Homo sapiens: one gene and its partners. The protein of the gene in region 5 purifies or fractionates together with the protein of the main gene of each other region. This does not show direct contact. Each region holds a gene or a part of one and is shown on either strand. Other genes may lie near its edges. The genes, in order: ZNG1A, FLG, MAPKAP1, PRIM1, GALNT9, RGL3 and SERPINA12.

Region 1 (3,500 bases), on a different chromosome or scaffold from region 5:
TAGCTACCATAGACAGTGATTCCTCTGATGGATCTGGGCAAAGTAAATTGAAAACCTTCTGGAAAGGATTCATCATTCTAGATGCCATTAAGAACATTTGTGATTCATGGGAGATCAAAGTATCAACATGAATAGGAGTTTGAAAGATGATTCCAGCCCTCACAGATGACTTTGAGGGATTCCAGACTTCAATGGAGGAAATAACTGCCGATGTGGTGGAAACAGTAAGAGAACTAGAATTAGAAGGGGAGTCTGAAGATGTGACTCAATTCCTGCAATCTCATAAGAAAACTTTAACTAATGAGAAGTTGTTTCTTATGGACGGGAAAAGAACGTGGTTTCTTGAGATGGAATCTACTCCTGGTGAAGATGCTATGAACACTGTCAAAATGACAACAAAGGATTTAAAATATGACAGAAGCTTAATTGATAAAGCAGGGTTTGAGAGGACTGACTCCAATTTTGAAAGAAGTCATACTGTGGGTAAAATGCTATCAAATAGCATCATGTGCTATAGAGACATCTTTTATGAAAGGGAGAGTCAACTAATGCAGCAAACTTCATTATTATCTTATGAAATTGCGATAGCCACCCCAACCTTCAGTAACTACTACCCTGATTGGTCAGCACCCATCAACATCGTGGCAAGACCCTCTACCAGCAAAAAGACTATGACTTGCTGAAAGCTGAGATGATTGTTAGCATTTTTTAGCAATAAATATTTTTAATTAAGGTATGTATGTTTTTTAGACAATTCTATTACACATTTTATAGACTACAGTATAGTATAAACACAGCTTTTTTTTTTTTTTTTTTTTTTTTTTAAGAAATGGGGTCTCATGCTGTCATCCAGGCTGGAGTGCAGTGGTGCAATCATGACTCACTGCAGCCTCAAACTCCTGAGCTCAAGTGATCCTCCCAAGTAGCTGGGACTACAGGCCTGTGACATCACACCCGGCCAAAACGCATAACTTTTATATGCAATGGGAAACAAAAAAATGTGTGTGACTCACTCTATTGTGATATTCAGTTTACTGCAGTGATATGGAACTAAGCCCACAATATCCCTGCGGTATGGCTGTACAGTATAAGAATCACCTGAAGGGCTTATTAAAAACAGCTTGCTTGACCCCCTCCCTTAGAGATTCCGATTCAGTAGATCTGGGTTGGTCAAGAATTTGCCTTTCTAACAAGCTCCCAGCTGAGGCTGAGGCTGCCATTCAACATACTACCAAGTAGCACTGGCATAGAGAGATCCCTGGAATAAAATGTACCTACTTGTGTGTGTGTGTGTATGAATGTGTGTGTGTGTGTGTGTGTGCGCATGTGCATGTGCGTGTGTGTGTGTGTGTACAGTCTTGCTCTGTTGCCTGGGCTGGAGTGCAGTGGCGTGATCTCGGCTCACCGCAACCTCCGCCTCCCAGCTTTCAAGCGATTCTCCTGCCTTAGCCTCCTGAGTAGCTGGGATTATGGGGTGCGCCACATCGCCTGGCTAGTTTTTGAATTTTCAGTAGAGACTGGATTTCACCATGTTGGCTAGGCTGGTCTTGAACTCCTGGCCTCAAGGGATCCACCTGCCTCAGCCTCCCAAAGTGCTGGGATTACAGGCATGAGCCACCATGCCCAGCCCCTACTTGTATATCACAAAAGTGAGATGATTACTTTTCAACTTTCTTCTTTGTATTTTTTAGGTATTTAAATTTTTTTACAATGAATGTTCCATCTTTACCCAAACAATAAAATCTTTATTGTAAAGAAAGTTAGAAGCAAGAAACATTAACATTTTTTATAACTACAATTTGTATAAAAGCTTTCTCTGTGATCTTTAGTTTTTCTTTCTTCCTCTGAAAAGCTGAATCGTGTTTAATTAAACTCTCAAAAGTATCAAGTTTTTGTCTATAAAATGGCAAAACTGGCTATGATGAAATAAACTGATATTTGCTATTTCTAATAAAAGCATACAATATATTTTTCTTTCTTACCAGATTCAAATATTTAACACCAACATATTAGTCCAAGTCCTATCATCAGTCAGATTTATCAGAAAGGTATGAAAACCCATGCCTACTATAAGGACCAAAATAGCCTAATTCAATACTACTTTGAAAACATGGGGATGATGTTATTATGTAATTGTTTTAAGTACAATAACCACTGATCACATTTGAACTCTCAGGATACTTCAATATTTCTTTTGGACAACTATGACCTGTTGAGTAAATTACCCCCAAATACTTTAATATAGTTTTACAAATCGCCCCAATGCCAGAGACCCAGATCAAAAAAAAAAATAATGGTATGGGTCAGATTCACAGAATAAGCACTAACTTTTATGCAAAATGAAAATAAAGATTTTATCTAAAAGTTATTTGGGGAAAATAAGCAGACTTTATCAAGAATTAGAGCTTGGTAAGAAGGTAACAGAAACCCATTGTTAGAAACAGGTTGACTCTGTGTAGCTTTCCATAGTAGAGTTCAGAGTTTCCTGTCATGATTCCCTTATCAATGCAGTGTAATAACTACTTACACAGCACTTACATTGTATTAGGTATTATAAGTAATCTACAGATGATTTAAAGTATATGGGAGGATGTGCATAGCTTATAGGCAAATACTACACCATTTTATGTAAGGGACTTGAACATTAATAGATTTTGGTATCCTCAGAGATTCCGGAACTAATACCCCATGGATGCCAAGGGACAACTGTACTTAGAGGTAGAACGTCTCTGCTCTTCCTACATGTCCTTATTTTTAACAACTTCTGTTCTTACAAATAATCCTAAGTCAATCAATAAAACTTCAAATTCTATTAACAGCTTAAAAGTACCAAGAAATACTCTGTTCATTCATTCAACTGCCAAAGAAAATGACAACCGAGTACTTTTCCTCTTTTAAACCAAAAAAAGTTTTTGGTTTAATACTAACAAAAGCTTTAATCCTCATTTTAGATATTCCTCTAATACATCTATTTACAATATATCACAGAACTATATTCTGGTTATTAATAATCTCACTTCTTACCAGGGTCTGCTAATCCAGTGGTCTCTAACAGTATGTAATCAAATTTCCCCTTCTTTTGCATCAAATTCTCAATAGCTCTAAGGCCACTGTCCCTGGAGAATACCAAAACATAATTTACAGTTAATTACCTAAATATTTTGAAGTGATTATTATAAACACTTTAAAATATATTCAACAACCCGAGACAAAAGTACCCTTGGGAATGTGAAAATTTAACTCACTTCTAACCTTCTAACAAAATGTCCGTCCCATATTTACCAGTGAGAAAACAATAGATGCATATATATAATAGGTAAAAAGAAATCATATACATAATACTTTATCAAAATTAAAAGCAGAGGAAACTTTATCTGACCAAGTATCTTTTTATAGCTTTATGAAATTTTTAAAAACCAACATACAAAATAATGATAAAATGTATTAACTATAGTAGTTTAATATAATAGCTAAAGAGACACTGATATTAAACACCATAT
Region 2 (3,500 bases), on a different chromosome or scaffold from region 5:
AAGAGGAAGCTTCATGATGATGCGACCCTGAGTGCCTAGAGCCATCTCCTGATTGTTCCTTGTCATATGTTTTTCTGCTTGCACTTCTGGATCCTGACTGCCCACGGGAGGCATCAGACCTTCCCTGGGATGTGGTGTGGCTGTGATGAGACCCTGAGTGTCCAGACCTATCTACCGATTGCTCTTGGTGGGACCCCTGTCTTCCTCCTCTGCTTGGCCCCGGGTGTCCACGAATGGTGTCCTGACCCTCTTGGGATGCTGAGTGCCTGGAGCTGTCTTGTGCCTGATCATAATGGGATCCTTGTCTTCCTCCAGTGCTGGGCGCAGACTGTCCATGGGTGGACTCAGACTGTTCATGAGTGCTCACCTGGTAGAGGAAAGACCCTGAACGTCCAGAGCTTTCCCCTGACTGGCCACGTGCGGACTCTTTGTGGCTCTGCTGATGGGGCCCAGCTTTTCCCTGTGCTGACACTGACTGTGTGTCTGAGTCTTCTGAATGTCCCTCACTGTCACTGGCCTGACTACCACTGTACCCTCGGTGTCCACTGTCTCTGACTGCAGATGAAGCTTGTCCATGCCCAATGCCTGAGTGTCTGGAGCTGTCTGCTGACTGGAGCTGGTGGTGGGATCCATGTCTTTCTCCTGCACTTGATCTTGCCTGTTCATGGGATGACGCAGCCTGTCCACGAGAGGAAGACTCTGTGTGACGAGTGCCTGATTGTCTGGAGCTGTCTGCAGAGTGCCCGTGACCGGCTCTGTCTTCGTGATGGGACCCAGGGTGTCTGGAGCCATCTCTTGACTGCTCCCAAGCAGATCCAAGATGGTTTCTGGAAGCAGACCCAGACCACCTCTCAGAGTCTTCTGAGTGTCCCTGACTGTCACTGTCCTGGCTAACACTGGATCCCTGGTTCCTGCTTGTCCTGGGCCCTGATGATTGTCCCTGGCCCACCTGCGAGTGTCTAGAGCTGTCGGCCCGAGAGGAAGCTTCATGGTGACGCGACCCTGAGTGCCTGGAGCCGTCTCCTGATTGTTTCTCATTACGTGTTTGTCTGCTGACACTTCTGGATCCTGACTGCCCACGGGAGACATCAGACCTTTCCTGGGACGTGGTGTGGCTGTGATGAGACCCTGAGTGTCCAGAACTATCTACCGATTGCTCATAGTGGGATCCCTGCCTTCCTCCTCTGCTTGACCCTGGGTGTCCACGAATGGTGTCCTGACCCTCTTGGGACGCTGAGTGCCTGGAGCTGTCTCGTGCCTGCTCGTGGCGGGATCTTTGTCTTCCTCCAGTGCTGGGCCCTGTGCGTCCATGGGCGGACTCAGACTGTTCATGAGTGCTCACCTGGTAGAGGAAAGACCCTGAACGTCCAGACCTTTCCCCTGACTGGCCACGTGTGGACTCTTGGTGGCTCTGCTGATGGGGCCCAGCCTGTCCGTGGGCTGACACTGACTGTGTGTCTGACTCTTCTGAGTGTCCCTCGCTGTCACTGGCCTGGCTACCACTGGACCCTCGGTTTCCACTGTCTCCGACTACAGATGAATCTTGTCTGCGCCCAGTGCCTGAGTCTGTGGAGCTGTCTGCTGACTGCTGGTGGCGGGATCCATGTCTTTCTCCTGGACTTGACCTTGCCTGTTCCTGGGATGATGCAGCCTGTCCACCAGAGGAAGTCTCTGCATGACGAGTGCCTGATTGTCTGGAGCTCTCTGCAGAGTGCCCATGACTGGCTCTATCTTCTTGATGGGACCTGGGGTTCCTGGAGCCATGTCTTGACTGCTCCCGAGCAGATCCATAATGGTTTCTGGAAGCCGACTCAGACCGCCTCTCAGAGTCTTCTGAGTGTCCCTCACTGTCCCTGTCCTGACTAACACTGGATCCCTGGCGCCTGCTTGTCTTGGACCCCGCTGATTCTCCCTGGCCCACCTGTGAGTGTCTAGAGCTGCCGGCCCGAGTGGAAGGTTCATGGTGACGTGACCCTGAGTGCCTGGAGCCGTCTCCTGATTGTTCCTCATTTCTTGTTTGCCTGCTTGCACTTCTGGGTCCTGACTGCCCATGGGAGGCATCAGACCTTCCCTGGGGTGTGGTGTGGCTGTGATGGTACCCTGAGTGTCCAGACCTATCTACTGATTGCTCGTGGTAGGATCCCTGCCTTCCTCCTCTGCTTGACCCCGGGTGTCCACGAATGGTGTCCTGACCGTCTTGGGATGCTGAGTGCCTAGAGCTGTTTCGTGCCTGCTCATGGCGGGATCCTTGTCTTCCTCCAGTGCTGGGTGCAGTCTGTCCGTGTGTGGACTCAGACTGTTCATGAGAGCTCACCTGGTAGAGGAAAGACCTTGAACGTCCAGAGCTTTCCCCTGACTGGCCACGTGCGGACTCTTTGTGGCTCTGCTGATGGGGCCCAGCTTGTCCGTGGGCTGACACTGACTGTGTGTCTGAGTCTTCTGAATGTCCCTCACTGTTAGTGACCTGACTACCACTGGACCCTCGGTGTCCACTGTCTCTGACTGCAGATGAAGCTTGTCTGTGCCCAATGCCTGAGTGTCTGGAGCTGTCTGCTGACTGCTGGTGGCGGGATCCATGTCTTTCTCCTGGACTTGATCTTGCCTGTTCATGGGATGACACAGCCTGTCCATGAGAGGAAGACTCTGTGTGATGAGTGCCTGATTGTCTGGAGCTGTCTGCAGAGTGCCCGTGACTGGCTCTGTCTTCTTGATGGAACCCAGGGTGTCTGGAGCCATCTCTTGACTGCTCCCGAGAAGATCCATGATGGTTTCTGGAAGCAGACCCAGACAACCTCTCGGAGTCGTCTGAGTGTCTCTCACTGTCACTGTCCTGGCTAACACTGGATCCCTGGTGCCTGCTTGTCCTGGACCCCGATGATTGTTCCTGTCCCACCTGTGAGTGTCTAGAGCTGTCAGCCCAAGAGGCAGCTTCATGGTGACGTGACCCTGAGTGCCTGGAGCCGTCTCCTGATTGTTTGTCCTTACGAGTTTGTCTGCTTGCACTTCTGGATCCTGACTGCCCATGGGAGGCATCAGACCTTCCCTGGGATGTGGTGTGGCTGTGATGGGACCCTGAGTGTCCAGATCTATCTACCGATTGCTCATGGTGGGATCCCTGCCTTCCTCCTCTCCTTGACCCCGGGTGTGCACGAATGGTGTCCTGACCCTCTTGGGACGCTGAGTGCCTGGAGCTGTCTCGTGCCTGCTCGTGGTGGGATCCTTGTCTTCGTCCAGTGCTGGTCCTGGTCCGCCCATGGGCAGACTCAGACTGTTCATGAGTGCTCACCTGGTAGATGAAAGACCCTGAACGTCCAGACCTTCCCCCTGACCAGTCACGTGCGGACTCTTGGTGGCTCTGCTGATGGGGCCCATCCTGTCCATGGCCTGACACTGACTGTGTGTCTGACTCCTCTGAATGTCCCTCACTATCACTGGCCTGACTACCACTGGACCCCCAGTGTCCACTGTCTCTGACTGCAGATGAAGCTTGTCTGCGCGGA
Region 3 (3,500 bases), on a different chromosome or scaffold from region 5:
GACACATTCAGTGTAGTAAAATGCCACCTTGAAAATCAACATTTATCCCTGTTCTGTGGAGCTTAAAAGGATTTAGTCTAAGCTGAAAGGAAATCCTTATAAGCACTAGGGGCTGCAGCTCTAGTCAATGAGATCTCTATAGAATCAGAAAGGAAGGCTTGCACTCTTGCAAAACAAATCACAGCAACTCCTTACAAGTCAGGCCACTCGAAGCACATAACTACTGTTAAAACAATATATTTTCCTTTCTTTCTCCCTTCACTATCATGCAATCTTCTCATTACTTTATAAGGTCATGGGGGAACAAGTTGTATTTTCCTCAAATGATGTGCTAAAGTACAAAACTCTATTTCATCAGTTTACATTTCCCCTCCTGTCATATGATTGTGAAGTGTTTAAAAGGGCACAGACAATGCTTTCAGAGTTACTAGGGGTTTTATAAAAATGATGTACCACCAAATTAATGTTGCTCAATGAATATATTTTCCTGTCAAGATAGTATTGTGTTTTTGTTGTTGTTGTTGTTGTGTTTTTTCTGAGACAGGGTATCGCGCTTGTTGCCCAGGCTGGAGTGCAGTGGCGTGATCTTGGCTCACTGCAACCTCCACCTCCCAGGTTCAAGATTCTCCGGCCTCAGCCTCCCGCGTAGCTGGGATTACAGGGATGCGCCACCATGCCCAGCTAATTTTGTATTTTTAGTAGAAATGGGGTTTCTCCATGTTGGTCAGGCTGGTCTCAAACTCCCGACCTCAGTTGATCCGCCCGCCTTGGCCTCCCAAAGTGCTGTGATTACAGGCGTGAGCCACCATGCCTGGCCTGTGTTTTTAAAATAAAATTTATAATCAAAATTACCTACTATACAATCAACTTCTTATTTTAGAAACTTAATTATAAAAACTGCTTCCTCAGTCCTGTTAAAACTGTAATGAGGCCGGGCACAGTGATTCACACCTGTACTCTCAACCCTTTGGGGGGCCGAGGCAGGAGGACTGCTTGAGTCCAGGAGTTCAAGACCAACATGGGCAACACAATCAAAACTCTATCTCTACAAAAATATATATATATAATAATTATTATTTTTTAATTAGCTGAGCATGGTGGGACATGCCTGTAGTCATAGCTACTCATGAGGCTGAAGTGGGGGGATCACTTGAGCCCCAGCATTCAAGGCTGCAGTGAGCTATGATTGCACCATTGCACTCCAGCCTGGGTGACATAGTGAGACCCTGTCTTCTAAAAACAAAACAAAACAAAACATACAAAAAACACTGTAATAATATTTGTTCTAGTAACAAGATAGCACCCTCTCAGTTAAGTGAAAATACTCAACAAAGAAAATATTGCAGGACAACGGTTAGGTACTAGGCCCTAGAGACAGAAAGGGTTCAAACCCTGGCCCTATTACTCGTTAGCTATAAGATCTCAGTCAAAATACTTTACCTTTTTGAGCCTCCCTTTTTTTTTTCCTTCATTTATAAAATGGAAGCTTCAGGAGATAATGCAGGTAAAATGCTCAAAAAAATACATGGCATGTAATTAAATAAATGTTAGCTATTAATAATAATGATAAAAAATCAATAATTTCAATGATCAATTCTTGCTTAAAGTAGTCCTAAAATATGTCAATATCCCATCTGTCTTAGTAAGTTCGTGGCACATAAAATAAGTCTGTGCTTCCTTTGTGATAGAGGACACTGCAAGTCATCTGAGTGACTTCCCTGCCCCTGCAAAATTGTTGAGAAGTACAAGGAATATGAAAGCTGGATTGACTATGTTTCCAGGAACAGTCCTAGAAGATACTTACTTTCAGAAGGACTTATAACACCAGATTTTCTTGTAATCTGTTTCTTCTAGAAATGGAACATAGAGAGGAAATCTAGCTAATAAATCCTTACAGTTAACTAAGGTTTTAAAAATTGTTGTCTGGAAACACATCATTCTGCTGATGTGTCTTAAAGTGGGTCTTAAAATAAAGATACTGAGATTAAAAAGAAATTTAACTGAGGAGCATCTCTAATCAAGCAAATTACATTAATCTTCACTTTTTTCCTCTTAATATATTCCTTGAGTACTTATTTTACTCTGAGGCTAATGGGAAATGCAAAGGTGAGTAAGGTATCCCTGAATCAAAAAGTTAATACCCTAATACAGACCGAGTACATCTCCTAATACCATGGGATTCCTTTAAGCATCAAATTTCTGAGATATCTGGTCCCTGAAGTATTAGTGTCAATCTACCATTTTAAGGATATTGATCAGAAAAAAATATGAAATTAACAATGAGCATTTAAATTTCACTTGTAAAAATACAAACTTCTCTATAACCATAAAAAATGTATACACCACACATTTATTTATAAATGAGAGTATTTGTGGAAGCATAGTATCACAGATCAGAGCTGCAAACATCCTTCTACAGCAATCACAATAAGCCATCTTCCTGGCATGAAAGGAAGGCAGCTAGTCACCAGTAGAGAGGCAGGTGCTTTCAAATTCATACTGAATAGTTCTCCCTTGCAAAAACAAGGGCTTTAATGAGAAGTCACACATTTAATACACTTGATCTTAGCCAAAAGGCCGAGAAGTGATCAGATATTTAATAGGTGTTCTAGCACCAAAAAGTCAAATGGCAAAAGGCAAAGTGACAAAAGTATACTGAAGTGCCCTCAATAAAATCTATTCTAGGGAAATAGATCACTTCTGAAGATAAGAGGAATGGGCAAACACTTCTGAAGGCACATACCAACTTCCCAGCTTTATCCTCCCAGAACAAATGCCTCAACAGCAGCAGATATCTTCTCTATTAGGACACTATGACTTCATACATTAAGGAATCTGTATGATTCATTCAAAAAATATTTATTCCCTACCAGCTCTGATATGGAACTCCCACAGGACTGCCCCAGAAAACATATTATTGTGTATGTCACTTTTTACCTCCAATTACATGTACTTAAAGACTTAGACTATAAGTTCCACAAGGACAGGGTTCATAACACCATATTCCTTCTGGCAACAAAGGCTGTTATACATGGCAGGAGTTCAATAAATGTTGCTGTCTAACTTCCAAGGACTATTCAATTTTGTTGTAGAGATAAGTCATATATGAATGTGCCAGGTGTAAGTGTGTGATTATAAATAAAGGATTGTCTTTTTTTCGTAATACAAGAGCATCTCTTCAACGTGCCCTTCAAAATTGTCCCCTTGGAACACTATTCAACTTATTCTAACAAGACTACTTTTCAAAACCCAAAAGAATATTTTAAAAAATCTCCCAAAGAGCAGCAAATTATCATTTGAAGCTATGTTTGATTTCCAAGACAAGGACATACATATCACGGATAAAAACAAATTGTACTCTCTGATCAGTTGTGCACAGATCAAAAAGATTTTTAAAAATCTAACTCTGGCAAGGGTTCAGAGAAATGGGCACTCTCATGCACAATATGAAGGAATGAAAACTGGGACTTTTTAGACGGTAATTTGGTAATATTTACCAA
Region 4 (3,500 bases), about 75 Mb from region 5:
AGCTACTCGGGAGGCTGAGGCAGGAGAATTGCTTGGACCCAGGAAGCAGAGCTTGCAGTGAGCCAAGATCATGCCATTGCAGTCCAGCCTGGGCAACAGAGTGAGAGTCCATCTCAAAAAAAAAAAAAAAAGATAGTTTCATTTTCTTTGACAGTAAACATATCAGGCTTGGTAACATCTAGAAACTAAAGCAATGCAAATTAGAATTAAGAGGATCTTACCTTTACAAGGCTCAAATACTCAACTATCCCAGAACGTACTGCAGAAGACAGTTTTCTAACTGATTCATCACAGACCCAACAATGAACACCTCTCCTTCCAGAATATACCCAGAGACGATGCTTAAATCCAAAGTCCTCTGAGGAAGAGAGAAATAATAGGTTTTAAAACAAATCTATAAACTCCTTAATTAATGTATATTAAATTACTTGTTGTTTCCTGTGCTCCCCATGTTCTTGCTTCATCTCTTTACCCATCCTGGTCTCTCTGCTGGGAATTTCTTTCTTTTTTAAAAAACTATTTTATTAGGCCAGGTGTGGTAGCTCACGCCTGTAATCCCAGCACTCTGGGAGGCCGAGGTGGGCAGATCACGAGGTCAGGAGTTCGAGACCAGCCTGACCAACATGGTGAAACGCTGCCTCTACTAAAAATACAAAAATTAACTGGGCGTGGTGGCGTGCGCCTGTAGTCCCAGCTACTCAGGAGGCTGAGGCAGGAGAATCACTTGAACCCAGGAGGCAGAGGTTGCAGTGAGCCGACATTGTACCACTGCACTCCAGCCTGGCTGACAGAGTGAGACTCGTCACACACACACACACACACACACACACACACACACACACACACACACACAAATTAATGAGATTTGATCACAAAATACAGAGACTAATAGTTAATAGTAGTCAGAGGAAAACCGATTCTTACACTTGACCCCATTCAGAAACTGCTGATACTTGCCCTTCAATGCTCTGTCAATGATGCGTATGGCCATTGTCATGAGGGTCCAGCACTTAGGACATATGTCTGCAGAACTAAAGCAGAGTCATCATTACTCATTGTCAGTGATACCACCCACCCTAACAGCAAGACACACAGTGCTCACCTACAACATCTCCTCACATCGTCATAGTCTGTCATGTCAATGTCAAATACCAGTTCTTTTTCCTGAGCCTGGAAAGCTCCCAGCTTCACTGTATTGTGTTGATTGGGCTACAGATACAAAATATTGATCAGTTTCTATAAGAGCTGCCACACTGCTAAATCTGCTTATTTTCTACACATATGGAAAAAGTTGCCAAACAGAAATAAAGAGACTATATAATGCCAACTTTATGACAGTGAAAGTTCATTATTTTGGATCTTACACATACACTATTGATGAGAGTCTTAACTTTCACCAACTTAAAGCAGGGTTTAATGAATACATATCCATCATAAATGTTTGTTGGTCAATAAGGATAATAATAAAGCTGTTTTTAGTTTTCTGACAAGGGAACGTATACAAATAATGGCCTATTGCAAGGTGTTTTAAGAACCTTTACTTGTTACCATACATAGAAGTATTTAAAAATTTTTCAATAATTCAAAAAGATCTCCCCAATTAGTTTGAATTGAGACTTTATTATAAAGAGGCTATGAGAAGCTGGGCACAGTGGCTCATGCCTGTAATCCCAGCACTTTGAGAGGCTGAGGCGGGCAGATCACTTGAGGTCAGGAGTTTGAAACCAGCCTGGCCAATATGGTGAAACTGTCTCCCTACTAAAGATACAAAAAATAGCCGGGTGTGATGGCATATGCCTGTAGTCCCAGCTACTTGGGAAGCTGAAGCAGGAGTATCATTGAACCCGGGAGGTGGAAGTTGCTGTGAGTCAAGATCACGCCACTGCACTCCAGCCTGGGTGACAGAGCGAGACTCTGTCTCAAAAAAAAGAACCTGAGAGGTTAATTCCACCATAAGTTTTTATAACTGTAAGTCAGAAGGGAGTGATTACTGAGGAGATTCATAAAACTAAATCTTAGGCTGTCAGTAAGGAAAGATAAGAGGCGCAACCCAATTTATACCTCAGAACCCCCAAAAGGCTCAGGGATAGGTGATACCAGGTATTGTTGGAATGAGTAAGTGCGTGTTTAGTGAAGCTGAGATGAAAAACAGGAAGATTTTTCAAGGCCACCCTTGACTGAAGGAAAAAAAAAAGGAGGATTGGTTCAAAGCATAGTTAAGAAGCAGTTAGCTACCCAGATTCGTACACTTAGCTTGCAGAGCTAGGTGACTGCTCTTTCATTTCCCTGGCAGAAGACACCTGAATTATTTTCCAGAGAGCATAAAACAGAAGGTCCCTGGACTTGGACAACAAGTACAATTGAAGAGTGTGTTGTATTGATATTACAAATTGATATTAGGGGAATAATTAGACATTTATATGTGGAATGTTAAGACCCAGCCCTTTCCACCCACTTCTGTACTCTTCCACTACCAACTCAGGCAGGAAGCTAGAAGATTTCTCTCTAAATAATCTGAACAGGGCTGGGCGCAGTGGCTCACGACTGTAATCTCAGCACTTTGGGAGGCTGAGGCGGGCAGATCACGAGGTCAGGAGATCGAGACCAACCTGGCTAACATGGTGAAACCCCGTCTCTACTAAAAATACAAAAAATTAGCCAGGCGTGGTGGCACACACCTGTAATCCCAGCTACTCGGGAGGGTGAGGCAGGAGAATCGCTTGAACCCGGGAGGCGGAGGCTGCAGTGAGCCGAGATCATGCCACTGCACTCCAGCCTGGATGACAGAGCGAGACTCTGTCTCAAAAAAAAAAAAAAAAGCTTTAGCTAAAAGAAAGTGGTTGCTTCTGGGTCTGGGTGTGGTAGCTCATGCTTGTAATCCCAGCATTTTGGGAGGCCAAGGCGGGTGGATCACTTGAGGTCAGGAGTTCGTGACCAGCCTGGCCAACATGGCAAAACCCCGTCTCTACTAAAAAACACAAAAATTAGACAAGTGTGGTGGTATGCGCCTATAATCCCAGCTACCCGGGAAGCTGAGGTGGGAGAATCACTTGAAACCGGGAGGCAGAAATTGCAGTGAGCTGAGACTAGCCACTGCACTCCAGCCTGGGCAAGAGAGCTAGACTTGTCTCAACAAAAGAAAGAAAGAAAGTAGTTGCTTCTGGGTAGCAAAAAATGAGGGGGAAGGGTAGCAGAATTTTTTTTAGACAGGGTCTCACTCTGTCGCCCAGGCTGGAGTGCAGTGGCGTGATCTTGACCCACTGCAACCTCCACCTACCGGGTTCAAGCAATTCTCCTGCCTCAGCCTCCTGAGTAGCTGGGACTGTAGGCATGTGCCACCGTGCCCGGCTGTTTTTGTATTTTTTGGTAGAGACAGAGTTTTACCATGTTGGCCAGGCTGGTCTTGAACTCCTGACCTCAAGTTATCTGCTCGCCTCAGCCTCTCAAAGTGCTAGAGTTACAGGTGTGAACCACCGGCCCAGCCTGGTAGCAGATTTTTT
Region 5 (2,359 bases):
TTCATGACGTCTGTCCAGGCGGAAGACCAGCCAGCTGTGCAAGCCGGGAGCCTGGCCCTGCGGAGCATTTGGGCGCCGTCCAGCCCGCATCCCCACGTGGGCCCTGCCCGGCGGTCCTCTCCCGCCCGCAACAGCGTCCCCGGGGTGGGAGGCTCCAAGGCAGCCGCGCAGGGCCCCGTTTGCAGCTCAAGGCAGCTCGCACGGCCTGTCAGTGCTCACTGGGGAGAGCCTGGGCGCTGCTCACACACAGTCCCGGTGGTCCTGTCCCCAGCTGGTGCGGTACAGCGCTGATGGACTGCTGCAGCTGGGGCCTCTGGGCTCCACAGCCTTCTTGCCTGACTCCAAGTGTCTGGTGGATGACGGCACGGGCCGCATGCCCACCCTGAAGAAGTGTGAGGATGTGGCGCGGCCAACACAGCGGCTGTGGGACTTCACCCAGGTCAGCCTCTGGGGAAGGGGGGCCGTGGGGTTGGGGCGGGGCAGGGCTGCTGGGACCCCTGGGTGCCTCTGCCACTAGAGCCAGCCCATTGGGTGGGAGCTGGAGTGCGGCAGGGGGTGGTCAGGGGACCGGGCCTTGGATCAGCTGTTCCCTTATGGGCCCCGACGCTCACAGAGAGGGCAGGTGACTGGTCAGGGTCACACAGCCAGAGAGGGGTCGGGCTGGACAGTCTGATCATAGCCCTGCATCTGCCTCTTCCAGCCTCAGGTGCCCAGGGTAGAGGGAGGATTTAGGAAGGGGATGAGGTATGATTCCAACCTGGGCCGCTAGCCCTGCAGGAAAGATGGGAAATCCTCGAAGCTCCACTGAAGTCAGCCCCTTCCCGGCCCCCCTGGGTGCTGCTGTGATGCTGGCTTTCCATTCAAGCTGCCCCAAGAATGAGCACGAGGGCTGAGAGCACGAAGCAGCCTCCCTGAGGTGGGGGGAGGGGGAACAAGGACGCCTGCACCTGGCTGACTTGATGTGCCTGTCCCCACAGAGTGGCCCCATTGTGAGCCGGGCCACGGGCCGCTGCCTGGAGGTGGAGATGTCCAAAGATGCCAACTTTGGGCTCCGGCTGGTGGTACAGAGGTGCTCGGGGCAGAAGTGGATGATCAGAAACTGGATCAAACACGCACGGCACTGACCCCACCTCCGCCCGGACCCCCACAGACCTCGGGAAGGCGCTGGGCCGAGCCAGTGTGGCTGAGTGACCGGGGTGTGCCCGGCAGACACAGCAGGACAGGGCTCTATGTGCGGCCAGGACAGCAGAGGCTGAGGGGCCGGGGTGTGGCTGAGTGACCAGGGTGTCACCCACTGCATCTGGAGTACAGCTTCTCCTAGGACAGGCGGCTCTACCCGAGGGAGGGCGTCTGGGGACAGTGATGCCAACTCAAACACGTGCCTTCTCCACGGTATCTCCTGGCCAGGCTGCTGGGACAGCCGCCGCCTCTGCATGTACCACAGCCCCCCACGCCCCATAGGGAGGCCAAGCCCCGGACCATGCACCAGGCTGCACCCTGGTGTCTTCCACCCGCAGGCCTCCCATGCTCCAAGCAGCCTCCCCCAGCACTTGCGGCCGCTCAGCCCTCCAACCAAGACCTAAGTCACACATCATAATGCAGCTCCTTGTGGTCTGGTAAGAGGGGTGCTGGAGGACATGGACAGCGACAAACCTGAGGCCGTGTCTAGGAGGCTGGCACGACTGCTTCAGCAGAGACCAAATAAAGAGAGGATTAGGCAGCAGCACTGTGTGTGTCTTCCTGGGAGCCGAGCTGGGGGTTGGGGCCCGGTCCCACCTCTTTCCCAGGCACCTGGGCCCTGCCGCAGCCCAGCCCCTTGCCTGTTTTAATAAATACAGTTTTATTGGCGCCCAGCCACACCCAGTTGCTTACTATTGTCTGTGGCCACCGCTGCGGGGCTCTCGGCACAGAGTCAGGCCATGGCCGCGTGGCTCACAAAGCTGCAGACGCAGACTCTGGCCGATGAGGAAATCACTGGATGACGCCTGTGCTGGGATGTGGCCTGGCAGGTGGCCTCACGTGTGCAGACAGACCATGAACTCGATGCAGCCGGGAAAATGGAGGAGAGCACGTCCCCTGCAGCCACACATGCAGCTGGAGGCCGTCAGCCTGAGAACTCAACCCGAACAGAAAACCAAAACCACGTGTTCTCACTTATCCATGGGAGCTGAATGCTGCATGCACATGACGCAGAGAGGGAATAGCAGACGCCAGGGACTCCAGAGGGGCAGGTGGGAGGGGGAGGAGGACGAGGACGAGGGCTGGAAAACCACCTGTTGGGAGCTGCGTTCACTCCCTGGGTGATGGGATCGTTAGAAGCCAAAACCTCAGCATCAAGCTATATACCCACATAACAAAC
Region 6 (3,500 bases), on a different chromosome or scaffold from region 5:
TGTGCGCGACCATACCCAGCTAATTTTTCTATTTTCAGTAGAGACAGGGTTTCACCACGTTGGCCAGGATGGTCTCGATCTCTTGACCTCGTGATCCGCCCACCTCGGCCTCCCAGAGTGCTGGGATTACAGGCGTGAGCCACCGTGCCCAGTCTCTTTTTCTTCATAAACAGGATCTCGCTCTATCATGCAGGCTAGAGTGCCGTGGCATGATCGTAGCTCACTGCAGCCTCAAACTCAAGCGATCCTTCCACCTCAGCCTGCTGAGTAGCTGGGACTACACCCAGCTAATTTTTTTGACTTTTAATAGAAATAGGGTCTCACTATGTTGCCCAGGCTGGTCTTGAACTCCCGGCCTCAAGCAATCCTCCCACTTTGGCTTCCCAAAGTGCCGGGATCACAGGCAATAGCCACCGTGTCTGCCATGGTATGCAGATTCTTAGGGACATACATGTCCTCAAAAAAGTGTAGGCTGGGTGCGGTGGCTCACACCTGTAATCCCAGCACTTTGGGAGGCCGAGGTGAGTGCATTGTTTGAGCTCAGGAGTTCGAAACCCACCTGGGCAACATGGCGAAACCTCATCTCTACTAAATAAAAAAAATAGCAGGGCATGGTGGTGCACACCTGTGGTCCTAGCTACTTGGGAGGCTGAGGTGGAAGGATTGCTTGAGCCTGGGGGAGGGGTGGAAGTTGCGGTGAGCTGAGATTGCACCGCTGCACTTCAGCCTGGGTGACAGAGCAAGAAGACCCTGTTTCAAATAAAAAGGGGTGTGATGTGATTGCACCCTAGATGACCCATGGGCAAGCAGTTACACAGGTCCAAATCTGAGCACGAGTCGGATTTATGAGTGATCACCCAAACAGGGCCGTGCAGATGCATGCAATCCCCTGGATGGATACCCCGGGCGCTCAGTGTGCCTCCTGTATACACTCCTGGCCCCACAATCCTGTGTGTACACATGTGCATGCACACACACGTGCACACACACAGAGCCTGGGTGCCCGCAGGCCCGCATGCACACACAAGCCGTCTTGGTACCTTGGTGCTGGGGCCCTGGGGCCCTGGAGAGGCCGGGGGACTGCCAGCAGGAGCATCTCTGCTTCTAGGACTTGAGGGGGGTGACCCTGGGGACACACTGGGGGAGATGCAGAGGCTGAGGTGGGGTGGCTGTGCTGACTCCTGATCCCATGATCCCCAGTCCCATCACCAAGCAGAATGCTCACCTGGAGGTGGGGGATGAGGGGTCCCCGGGACTCCCACTAGGTGATGAGCTTTTCTCTCGGGCAAGCTTCCTAAGGATGGGGACAGGGGATGAGGCTAAGGCAGGAGCAGCCCTTGCTGATATCTGCCCACATCACCGCCCCTACACACACCCCGAGACTCACGCACTGAGACGCTTGGTGAGGCTGATCCGCCGTCGGATGCGTGGGGAGCTGGGGCAGGAGGCAGCTGGTGGCTCAATGACCCGGGAGAGCCGGTAGCTGAGGGGTCAATATGTGGATGAGGTGGTGGGGGCAGGAAATACAGGGGATGGAGAGATAAGAGTTGGAATCAGTTGGGAGGTGGGTTTGGGGTGTAAGGGGGAGCAGCCAGAGGTGGCACCCCACATGCCAGGGTCAGGGTGGTAAATGAGGGTCATTGAGCATCAAGGTCTTATCAGAGATGGGACAGGATGGCTGGTCAGGAGGTCACAAAGAGATTCACAGGGTGGCACTAAGGAATCAAATTGGGTCAGGATTAAAGTCAGGGTCAGGACTGGGTGCAGTGGCTCACGCCTGTAATCCTAGCACTTTGGGAGGCTGAGGCGAGAGGATTGCTTCGGGTCAAGAGTTCGAAACCAGCCTGGCCAATATAGTGAAACCCCGTCTCTACTAAAAATACAAAAAAAATTAGCCAGGTGTGGTAGCTCGCGCCTGTAATTGCGGCTACCGGGGAGGCTGAGGCAGTAGAATTGCTTGAACCTGGGAGGCGGGGGCTACAGTGAGCCGAGATCACTCCACTGCACTCCAGCCTGGGAAACAGAGCCAGACTCTGTCTCAAAAATAAATAAATAAATAAATAAATAAATAAATAAATAAATAAATAAAATAAAGTCAGGGTCAGACTGGGGTCAGGTCACCATTGGGGTCAATGGTTAGGGTCACAGTTATATAGAAAGAAAGGACACAGTTGTCATAGTCAAGCTGGACAGTCAAACATAAAAGTTGGAGTCAGTTACTCAGAACTGAGGGTCAAGGGTTGGGGTCAGAGAGTCAGATGAGGGGTCATGAATAAGGTCATGGGTCAGATAGGACCAAAGATGGGGAAGTCAACAGATGGGACAGTTGAGTTGAATGGCCAGCTGAATGCTAAAGTTGAGGTCAGAAAATCAGATGGGGTTGAAATTGAGGTCAGAGGTCAATTGTGACTATTTTTTTTTTTTTTTTTTTGAGACAGGGTCTCACTCTGTCACCTAGACTGGAACTGCAGTGGCGTGATTTTGGCTCACTCCAACCTCTGCCTCCCAGGCTCCAGCAATCCTCCCACCTCAGCCTCCCAAGTAGTTGGGACCAACGGCACTCAACACCACATTCAGCTAATTTTTTTTTTTTTTTTTTGAGACGGAGTCTCGCTCTGTTGCCCAGGCTGGAGTGCAGTGGCACCATCTCGGCTCCCTGCAAGCTCTGCCTCCCGGGTTCACGCCATTCTCCTGCCTCAGCCTCCCAAGTAGCTGGGACTACAGGCGCCTGCCACTACACCTGGCTAATTTTTTTTTTGTATTTTTAGTAGAGACGGGGTTTCACTCTGTTAGCCAGGCTGGTCTCAAACTCCTTACCTCATGTGATTCACCCGCCTCGGCCTCCCAAAGTGCTGGGATTACAGGTGTGAGCCACCGTGCCCAGCCACGTTCAGCTAATTTTTGTATTTTTTTGTAGATATGGGGTTTCGCCATGTTGCCCAGGCTGGTCTCGAAATCCTGGGCTCAAGTGATCCACCCACCTTGGCCTCCCAAGTGCTGGGATTACACGAGTAAACCACCAGGCCCAGTCTATTTGATTCGACTGGAGATACTGCAAGGTCACAGGTTGTAGTGGGGGATCAGGGCTCAAGAGGGGGTCTTGGGAGGAGCTGGAGGTGTGTATGGAGTGGGTGGAATCCAGTTGGTGACCCAGGCTCAGCTGGGGTGGGGCTGGGACAGGCTACAGGGTGGTCACCTCTGCTCCTCGGTGAGCTGGTTCTGGGCATGCAGGGCAGCCAGGATGGGCGGGTGGGGGCTCAGGGTGTAGCTCTGACAGCGCCTCTGCAGCTGCTGGATGCGGGCCAGGATCTCCCACTCCTGGAGGACGAGCCTCTAAGACCCTACCCCTGCCCCACCCCCACCCTCAGGCACCACCACACCCACTGTAGCCTCCACTCACCTTCCTCCTCTTCTCAAAGTTAATGAGATCCCCCTGGGGGCAAAGTGTGTCTGAATTGCAGCACCCAGGGTCAAGGGTCAAGGGTCAAGGTCAGGGGCTG
Region 7 (3,500 bases), on a different chromosome or scaffold from region 5:
CTCTGGTTGGACATACTACTGTCAGTGATGGTCACACCCATTTATATGTAAAACGAAGGCAGATTTCTTTGCTTGGTCATCTGTTATATCATTTAGTCTGCTTTCTTCCTGTAATTTATATCTTACATGTCTGTAATCTGTGGGTAATAGTCAGCCTGTCCACAGTAAAGGTTTTTCATGGTTGTCTTAGATTGGGTTCCCTAGAAGCAGAACCTGAGATGGGGATTTAGGTGCATGTTATGTATTGAGGCAGTTGTCTTCCCTGTAGGGAAGTGAGGGAAGTGGGATGGAAAAGGGAAGGAGCCAAGGTGACATCTAGCCTTGGCCTGGTCCACAGTGGGAGGGCTCTCCAGGCTGGCCTTTTGGATAGAATCGGTCAGTTGGTGGCTGTGATCTGTCCTCTGGATGCAGGTCATGGTGCATAACTGGGTCAGTTAGGTCTTATCAGCCAAGGACAATTTTCTGGAGAGGGGAGGGCAGTTGTGAGCTGTCAGCAGGCAACCCTCACAGCAGCACCAGCAAAAGGGAACTGGGTCAGCCACCAACGGGGTCTGCACAGCTAAACTCCCATGCCTGGCTCTTTCTGGTTGGCTGAATAAGCAGATGAATGAACACCAGGCAGGGCCTGTACCTAGGAGTGTCCCCAGTTCCCAGGTTCTTCATGTCCAAATCCTTCTACGCCAAGCACTGTGGATAGAGCCTTGATCACAACAAAGGTCTTCAAGGAGTTTGTAGTATAGTATTGGAAAATTCTAGTGAATACTGCTCATTGCTCCTTCAGCATCCATTCTCCCAGCTTCCCAATAGATCCTCTTCTTCTTTCTTCTCCTCTTCCCCTCCTCGCCTTCTTCTCCTCTTATCCTCTTCTCCTCATCTTCTCTTTCTTTTTCTTCTTTTCAATAATATACTCTTCTCTCAGGCAGCCCATGTGCCTCAGGGACACAAGCCCCTCCCAGCTCCAAGGGAGGGCCTGATTGGTGCAGGGGCATCTCAACTCTCCTGCTACTGGTTGGTTCAGGAGCCAGACCTAATCCAATCAGTGCAGGCGGGAATTTCTGCCCTGATCCTTGTTTAGGGAGGGGCATGTGGCTTAAGGGGTGCAATGAGGGAGGATTTCAAGACTGTTTGTTGGAATGTTGGGGTGCTGGCCTGTCTCTTTCCTGGGATGTCCTGGGCAGGAAGGCACGGCAGGCAGGGACTAACAGCAACTTTGCCCCGTGAGGGAAGTGACTCTAAGACAAAGCCATAGCACAAAGAGGATGCATCCAAGGGCTCTTAAGAGAAACCGGGGCTGGGTCCATGGAAAAAGCTGAACCCAGAGCCCACCTTGCCTCTGGACCCCCAGTGACGTTGAGTTACATGGTCACTTCCTTGAAGCCAAAAACATCCTCACAAATACGGGCAGATACATATTTTTTAAAACGCCAGGACTACTAAGTAGGCAGGAGTTCTGTGCTCTGCTCTCATGCCTTCGTAGCTGTGTGACATTCCAGAAAGCACTTCCCTCTCTGAACCTGGGTGCTCTCTAAGCACCTTCTACCCCCAAAAACCACTTCTTGGTAAAACTTAATAACAGCTGGTGATGAACAAGGGCTCTATGGGCTGCTGAAAACAGATTGTAGAAGAGAAATTAGTAAAATTCCCAAGAATGCTTCAGATAAACAAAAGAAAATAGGAAGGAGTCCATTTCAGGGTTTAGGGGGCTGCACTGTTTACAAAGGCTGCCTGGATTAAAAATAGAAGCTTCTGCTATTCAGAGTGGGCGCAAGTTCCCAGTGCCTAGGAGTGGAGAAGTTAAGACATGTCCCTTGAGCTGAGAAAACATTCTCAGCAGCGGTGAAACCAGCAGCCTGGCAGGAGCCTTGGAGGAGGCCGGGCAGGGCAGGGCTGGAGCAGGGAAGGAACCCACAGAAAGCACCATCCTGGGAACACTCTGTGGCACGCACAGCTTTACAGTGATGTTCAGTCACTGATCCCTAAACATTGTCAAGTTTCAGAAACAAGAACGGATTATGGAATTCCAGGTCTGGATAGCGGTCCTCCCCAACTTGTGTGTTTGTTAGGTGTTTTGATGCAAGTCTCTTCACCCTTCAGGCTTTCAGTATCTTCATCTATTAAATGAGGGGGAGGTGGTGATAATTTGGTTTCTTCCCCCATGAGATACTGCTGATCAGGTGGCACTGCCACCACCTCCCCGCCCCCCCACCCCCGCCCCAAGGGACACAGCCCACACCCTGGCCTGGTGGGGTCTCAGCACCCTCCCACCTCAGCATGCCTGTGTCACAGCAGTCTCCACCGGGCCTCCTGCCCTGGCTCCCTGAGTGCGAACATCTGGCCTTTCTCCCCCAAACAGCCAACACCAGCCCCATTCCGGGCCTTTCCATCTGTCATCACGGGCTTTAAACTGACCCAAATTTGTCAGTTGGGTTAGATGCCTGAGTAGGCTAATTTTTTAATTCCATCAATTAAAATAGCTGAGCAACTGGTTATTTCCCAATCAATTGATAGGTTGCTCTCCTGAGTTGAGCAATTGTTTGTTGGCTTTTAGTTTGGAATGTGTGTGTGTGTGTGTGTGTGTGTGTGTATCTGTGTGTGTTTGGCTGTGACTCAAAATAAATAAAGAGATAAAACTAAAACAAAACCAAGAAAAAAAAAAGAACAAGATAGAAACCGAACCCCATGGGGTACACATGGGACACATGAAGCTATAGTCAGTATTTCAATTCTCTGATCATCCTGCTCCCATGTTCCCTATTAATTTGGAAAAATAATTTCCTCCTCTTATGACTAGATAAAATAGTGCCTCACTGACCCGGAAGTCATTCATCCTAAAGACAGATCCAAACCAGATGGGAAGCGTCCGCACAGGTAGCATAGGCGGCTTAAGTCTACACGAGAAGGGGTTTCCCTGTGGGAGGGCACTGCTTCCACCTCCCACACCGTCCCGATCAGCCAACTGAAGCAACAGTGAGCTGTGACAGCAGACTCAACAATAATAATATTTCTAATTTTACAAAGCGCTTCCCCCGTTATCACCACAGTTTGAAGAAATGATACCTAAACAGGGATAACACACACAGGCTACAGAAGGTCTACTCAGTGCACAGTGGTTTGGAACCACAGTTTTCTTTAGAGAGAACTCCCCCTGCCCCCAGGCAGGTCACTCCTCTCCTGATAGTTGACCACCCTACCTCTCTTCCCTGGGATGAAACTGACTGGCTAGAAAGAGTTGATGTAATATCCTTCCTCAAGCCAATGAGACCAAAAAGTTTAGAATGCTTTGGACAAGTTCCCATGTCTTGAGAACCAACAGAGCGAGCTTCAGGCAACCAGTGTGTTGCCTCCTCATCGGGGAGATGCTTCCTACACTTGGCTGCATGCACCAGACACCCCTTCCTGCCCCAGAAACCCCTTCCTGCCCCAGGAACCCCAGGCCCTCTGAGATGCCACCTTTCCTCAGAACCTTTTCTGAGCGCCTCTTGGAATGTGCAGCACTTGGG

Evidence for each region.
Region 1: the proteins of GALNT9 (region 5) and ZNG1A purify together in Homo sapiens (affinity purification with mass spectrometry; one large-scale study listed by BioGRID and IntAct). This does not show direct contact.
Region 2: the proteins of GALNT9 (region 5) and FLG purify together in Homo sapiens (affinity purification with mass spectrometry; one large-scale study listed by BioGRID and IntAct). This does not show direct contact.
Region 3: the proteins of GALNT9 (region 5) and MAPKAP1 purify together in Homo sapiens (co-immunoprecipitation; one large-scale study listed by IntAct). This does not show direct contact.
Region 4: the proteins of GALNT9 (region 5) and PRIM1 purify together in Homo sapiens (affinity purification with mass spectrometry; one large-scale study listed by BioGRID and IntAct). This does not show direct contact.
Region 6: the proteins of GALNT9 (region 5) and RGL3 purify together in Homo sapiens (affinity purification with mass spectrometry; one large-scale study listed by BioGRID and IntAct). This does not show direct contact.
Region 7: the proteins of GALNT9 (region 5) and SERPINA12 purify together in Homo sapiens (affinity purification with mass spectrometry; one large-scale study listed by BioGRID and IntAct). This does not show direct contact.

The regions. Positions count from the first base shown.
Region 1 is NC_000009.12:169,057-172,556, forward strand, and holds part of ZNG1A (zinc-regulated GTPase metalloprotein activator 1A), read right to left. Parts: exon of another isoform or gene 3,433-3,500; intron 3,117-3,432; coding exon 3,025-3,116; intron 1-3,024. UniProt on the Homo sapiens protein: Zinc chaperone that directly transfers zinc cofactor to target metalloproteins, thereby activating them.
Region 2 is NC_000001.11:152,308,240-152,311,739, forward strand, and holds part of FLG (filaggrin), read right to left. Parts: coding exon 1-3,500.
Region 3 is NC_000009.12:125,672,709-125,676,208, forward strand, and holds part of MAPKAP1 (target of rapamycin complex 2 subunit MAPKAP1), read right to left. Parts: intron 2,590-3,500; exon of another isoform or gene 2,446-2,589; intron 1-2,445. UniProt on the Homo sapiens protein: Component of the mechanistic target of rapamycin complex 2 (mTORC2), which transduces signals from growth factors to pathways involved in proliferation, cytoskeletal organization, lipogenesis and anabolic output.
Region 4 is NC_000012.12:56,745,824-56,749,323, forward strand, and holds part of PRIM1 (DNA primase small subunit), read right to left. Parts: intron 1,210-3,500; coding exon 1,103-1,209; intron 1,032-1,102; coding exon 958-1,031; intron 359-957; coding exon 222-358; intron 1-221. UniProt on the Homo sapiens protein: Catalytic subunit of the DNA primase complex and component of the DNA polymerase alpha complex (also known as the alpha DNA polymerase-primase complex - primosome/replisome) which play an essential role in the initiation of DNA synthesis.
Region 5 is NC_000012.12:132,195,872-132,198,230, reverse strand, and holds the end of GALNT9 (polypeptide N-acetylgalactosaminyltransferase 9), read left to right. Parts: intron 1-271; coding exon 272-439; intron 440-977; coding exon 978-1,124; 3' UTR 1,125-1,859; downstream 1,860-2,359. UniProt on the Homo sapiens protein: Catalyzes the initial reaction in O-linked oligosaccharide biosynthesis, the transfer of an N-acetyl-D-galactosamine residue to a serine or threonine residue on the protein receptor. Does not glycosylate apomucin or SDC3.
Region 6 is NC_000019.10:11,398,815-11,402,314, forward strand, and holds part of RGL3 (ral guanine nucleotide dissociation stimulator-like 3), read right to left. Parts: intron 3,434-3,500; coding exon 3,401-3,433; intron 3,319-3,400; coding exon 3,197-3,318; intron 1,484-3,196; coding exon 1,388-1,483; intron 1,295-1,387; coding exon 1,226-1,294; intron 1,156-1,225; coding exon of another isoform or gene 1,138-1,155; coding exon 1,041-1,137; intron 1-1,040.
Region 7 is NC_000014.9:94,499,470-94,502,969, forward strand, and holds part of SERPINA12 (serpin A12 precursor), read right to left. Parts: intron 1-3,500. UniProt on the Homo sapiens protein: Adipokine that modulates insulin action by specifically inhibiting its target protease KLK7 in white adipose tissues.